2 separate regions of the Homo sapiens genome follow, and region 2 is linked to region 1. The links come from fine-mapping of genetic effects on gene expression. Tissue or cell type: visceral fat. Region 1 holds a variant in brackets; the other region holds the start of a gene. All regions are shown on one strand. Distances are between the middles of the regions.

Region 1 (2,854 bases):
ACCCTTAATGTACTTAAATAGTAGTTTCTGCTGAAAATAACTAAAACTGGTTCTGAGTAATACATTTCATTATGTTAATTAAAAAATTTTTGTTTATGACCTAATTGTTTTATTCTAAACTTTGCCATCTAGTCCTAATTGAACTCAATAGGTGACTGATCCAACTAAATCTGAGGTTGAATGGAGTTTTAAAACCTGAGACCAGCCCTGACCTCACTGGCTCTCTCAGAGGATGAAGAGCAGTACTGATTCATATTCCATGTCTTGGAACATCAGATTTAAGGCATTTTCAGAGATAAGCATTGGGTATTAGTATATGCTAGCACCTCTTGGTAAGGCTATGTATTTCTCTAACCAATCAATTGGTGCAATGATTCTCAACATTTTTTGTCTAAGGAGCCCTTCACTTTCTAAAAAATTATTGAGGATCTCAGTGTGACATTAATTATATCTGTTGATATTTCCTGTACTTGAAATACTGTGAGTAAACACAGTTTTATGAAAATAGTTTTTAATCATATTTTGCTGACCATCTGGAAATATTTGAAGGACCCCTAGGGAACACTGGACAGACAACTCTTAGAAAACCACTAAATTAGGTATTTATGGAACACTTGTGTGCACAAAATTGAGATGGGCTCTATAGCAAATTTGGACATTTAGCTGATGGCAGACAATGGGAATGAGACTTCCACACTGGCACAAAAGGAGGAAACCAACCCATCAAGGGCATTAGAGATGCAGGCAAACAGTGACAGACACTTTCCTGCATGATCTAAGTTTACCCTAACTGTCTCTGGGCAGTGCTATTTATTGAGGAGTTTTGCTGCAACAAAGGCTATGAAAAAAAAAGGCCTTGTGTTTCATAAAGGAATAATATTTTAAGGATTAGTATTTTTTTAATAGATAAAACTGGTTTCAAGTGACACAAAGTATGGTGTATTTGCTGCATGATTGTCATTTCCCAGCAGGATGAGAATGGTAATTTCCATCTTTGAGTTCTGGTAAAGGGTAAAGAGATAAGCTAATGTGAGATTATGTTTTTCTTCAACACTTAGTTCATGTGGAATCAAGTGGATTATTTCTATTTGTCGCTGAGAGTGAAACTCTCCACCCTGATGTTCTTCGTGCTTTCTGGGAAATCTCAGGCAAGTACCACACCATTGAGATGAGGATCTCTTCTGCCAAGAGCCACCCTTTCCACCACTCCCTGGAGAAATCTCTGACTCAGTCAAGCTAGGTGACTCAGAACTCCCTCGGTTCCTCTGCCTTCCAATTCATGCCAGCTGGGCACAGAGAGAAAGAGACAGGGCTCAGTGCTGACCTGGAGACCATCTGCGCCTCATAAAGACCCAATGCCAGGGACTTGCATCGAAATGAATGTGGTTAGGTCAAGTGGTGGCCTGGAATTTTGGGAAAGGTCCAGTGACTTGGGTGGCAAACACAATTGCAGCTTCCAAAGGCCACCTTC[C/G]AGAGGAAATAAGATCTGGTCAGCCACACAAGATATATCTACGAAGTAGCATGAATGGATGGATGGATGAATGGTTAGAGATGTGTAAATACATTCTATTTGAAAAGCTAGACAAAAAAAAAGATTGAAATACAATTAAAAAAAACTAAACTAAATATAGAGTATGAAAATATATAGACATCAACACCTAGAATCAATAGTAGTTGATGTTTTATCTTATTTTGTTTAATTTAAAATTACACAAAACATTGCAGATAAAGTCTCCTTTGTACCCAGTTCCAGGGCCACTGACCTCTACACATTCCCAGAGGTAGCAGCTGGCATGACTTTGGCCATCCCTGACTTTCTATTGCCTTTCTCATGGCCTCATCTCTGAATGCTGTCCTGTCTCTCTCTGTAATACCATGCCCCTCCCACCCCCTTTGTTCAAGATCAATGGCAGTTGTCCTCTTTGTGCAGCCTGCCCTGGCTCCGAGAAGGCAGATGTGTGCTGCCTTTCCTCCTGCAAGGCTCATCTCCTGGACTGGGGGTCAGGCACCCTGTCTCATGTGTGTTGGGATCTCCATCTTGCCATACCCCATACACGATTATTTAGGAGGGAATGGGACAGGTTGAGAGAAGCACACAGTTCCACAGGCACCTTTTTCCTCACGTGTTGTAGCTTACATTTTTGAAGTACCTTCACTTCACCTCCTTGTCACCACAGCAACAGAGATGAACATCTCATCTCTGCCCCCTGCCTCCACCTTTCCACGCAGTGTGCCAAGAGCTAAAACTGCACCCAGGCCCCTGGGGGGTGGCCCTCAGCTCCAGGAGCCACGTCTGACAAACTACAAGGCTAATTCCTAGTCTCTGCTTCCCTATGCCTGGCCATCTATTATCAGCCAGAGAATGGAGAGGTGGAGTCTTCCAAGGGAAAAAAAAAACCAGTTTTTTTTCCTCCTTAATTGTTTTACTTCTTCATATGCACTGCTTTTCTAAGTTACCAAGCCCTTTGTTAAAACAAGAATGGTAGTGAAGCAGCATGCAGGCATTTTTTTTTTCATATGGAGGCTATTTGGGAATTCCTGTACACACACACAAACACGTGCACACACGTGTGCGTGCACACACACACACACACCCACGTATGCCACATTTTGAAATAAAGGGAGAAACTCCTGGCAGTCACTCTTTGCAGAGTGTGAAGGCCTAGAAACATCTTCTTCTTTATCTTGATTCTAAAAGAGAGCAAGTCAAAAGGCTAAGCAAAAGAATATAAAAGAATAATGAGCTAAAATACAAGCTTCATAGGACCGGGATTTTTATATGTTTTGTTTTCTAAAGTATCTCAAGAGCATAGAACAGCATCTGAGACAGGGTCAGAGCTAAGTATTTGTTGAA
Region 2 (2,663 bases), 44 kb after region 1:
TCAACTAGTTCCTACCTCCCAGCTCTTTTTGCTAATAAGCCATTTGATATTCACAATCCTCCAAGAGAGACAACTCTACCTGTTTTCCAGAAAAGAAAGTACTTAATTAACACTGACTATTATCATCCTCCTCATCAAGGTTTCTGTTCTCACAGAGGTTACATTCTTTCGGAGAAGACAAAAGAAACAAGTAAACAAGAGACACTATTACAATGATCGATGAACTGTTATAGGAGAAAAAATCATCACTAACAAGTGATTTATCTGAAATTTACTTTAATAGATTATATAAAGGTGCTACGGTATAATGACACCTATGTTGCAAAGAAACGGCTGCAAGGCTTAGAGTGACAGTGCCAGACACTTTGCGTTAGTTGAAAATAACTGATTGCTATTAGATATTTTCCCTAACGGTAATTAATCTCACCATCTCCGGTTCTCCCAATGTATTCTACCTAGAGTGAATTTCTAACTCAGCTCGTGTCACCAATAACGTAATAGCGTGCATGTTTTTCTCTCTCATTAAGAATGCAAGAGGTAGAGGTTTGTCTTAATTATGTTTCCACCTTCAAGGGAAGGTCAATAAATATTCACTGAACAAATATTACTGCCATACAACTGAGATGTTCTCTAGCAGTTTCCCCTTGGCCAGGCTGCCTCTGAAACACGCCCCAGGAGGACTGCAAGTGCCAAATCAGCACGTGGACGTGACCGGATGGCGAAATATTAATAGGACAGGGAGGGGTTAAAGAAGGGAAGCCCGTGGTAAATGGGAAGGGAGAACCGGACTGCTCCAGGACAGAGTTAGAGGCCAAGGAGGGTGGTTTTCCTGGGAAGCTAACAAAAGAAGTCACTCACGTCATAGGTGTGGAAACTCTTGCCCACGCAGGTTGTTACATAGAACCGGCGCTTGAGCGCGCTGAACCGCACCACGTGTGGAATGTCGTTGCTGAAAAGTCCCAAGGCCCGGAACCCCGCAAAAAGCGCGCTGGCCGTGCGCCTTTCTGAGGCCCGTTCCATTGCCGCCGCGATCCCAGCTCCTCTCAGCTCTGGTCCTGAAGGAAAACACGTACCCAGTCCCTTCAGCGTGTCTAGTGGAACAGTCCTCTGCCAGAGCTGCAGACACAACACCGCTTCCGGCGCCCGCTGCGAATCGCGTTTCCGGAGACTGCCCTCAGTGCAACACATAAAGTTCTCCCTCCAGAGCTCACATGGGAGGCGTGACTTGGGTTCCGAGGGCCAAGGTCTCCAGCACGTTGCCTAGCATTGTTCTCCAGCTCTTTTGCGGTGGAAGGAAGCTCGTTAGGTTCCGACAGAACCGCAAGGGCGGGAAACAAAGAGGGAAGCGCGACGCCCAGGAGAATGGAGGGGAGGTCGACGCCTTGGAGATGGAAACGATTTAAACATGTGATTATTTAAAAATGTACAAAAACATGAGACTGGAAAAATTTAAACACTGGATATCTGATGATATTAAGGAATTATGTTTCATTTTTACATATGATAGTAGCATTATGATTACGTTTTTAAAGATCCTCATCTTTTGGATACATATTGACATATTTACAGATGAAAACTATAATGGGACATTTCAAAACTGACAGAGGGATTCACTCACAGACCCTCTGGGGAGTAGAACTAATTACTTGTGGGGAGGGAACTGCTCACTTGGGCAACTTGGATAAGTGTAGATTCCTCCCAGAAAAGGAAGATAAATATTAAATGTTATTGGGATTCCTGGATTAAGTCAGTATTCCTTGAGGTCGGCTGTCAAAAGCAGACAGTAGAGGTTCTAAAGAGGAGCTTATCATAATGCAAACGGGAGTCCGGGCAGTTCATTAGAGCTGAGTGCCTTAGGATGCTGAAGGAGACTGATTCCAGTGAAGTGGGTGTCAAGACGCCTCACTCCTCAGGAGCCAGCTGCCTTACCAAGATGTAGGTTTGGGGAACAATCTCTGAGCATGTGAACATTAACTAAAACAGTGGTGAGCTTAGAGCCCAGGACCAAAGTTCAACATATGGAATAACCTCTTCTCTTACTGTTTTATTTCCATTTCATTTCGTTTATGAAAACGTTTTGGCAGCCTATTAAGGTTTGGGTCGAGTGACTAACGTAACTATACTAGTACTTGAGAGGGATAAAAAGGGTATATTTACTAATGTAAATGTACTTGAAAGAGATAAAGAGGGTCTGTCTCTACACAGATCAGTGTACTCTCTCGGGTTCCTTCCAGTTCTAAAATGTAATTATTATGAAACAAAAGTCACTTGTTAGCTAATTTGAATACCTGACTCATACATTCTTGAACAAAAAAAATCTTGATTTATTTTATAGTTCTTGGCACAAAGCCTCAAACACTTTGGATGTTAAGATCATTAAGGGGCAGATGCTAACAGAATGAGAGCTTGTTATTTAGTCCTTGACATGTTGTACTTACTTGTATTTTCATTTGTACCCCGGATTTCTCAATAGCAGTGCACATTTTCAGCCATGTTTTTGGTATGACTTAAAAGTGAACAAGTTGCTAATTATTTGTAAATGTTCTTTAAATTAAAAAAGAGGGGAGAGGGGAGGAGCCAAGATGGCCGAATAGGAACAGCTCCGGTCTACAGCTCCCAGCGTGAGCGACGCAGAAGACGGGTGATTTCTGCATTTCCATCTG

Evidence for each region. PIP is the estimated chance that this variant, and not a neighbour inherited with it, causes the effect.
Region 2: it holds the start of WDR36, and the variant in region 1 is fine-mapped to the expression of WDR36 in visceral fat (GTEx, PIP above 0.99).

What each region holds. Positions count from the first base shown.
Region 1 is chr5:111,134,535-111,137,388 of GRCh38, reverse strand. No RefSeq gene overlaps it. Among named protein-coding and RNA genes, the nearest start is that of WDR36, 44 kb to the right of the region's middle. The variant C/G (reference allele first, on the strand shown) is at 1,472.
Region 2 is chr5:111,090,814-111,093,476 of GRCh38, reverse strand. WDR36 (WD repeat domain 36) reads right to left here and starts at 1,129. Exons shown (of 23, transcript NM_139281.3): 1 at 859-1,129. The coding sequence starts at 1,020. RefSeq lists an enhancer at 840-1,279.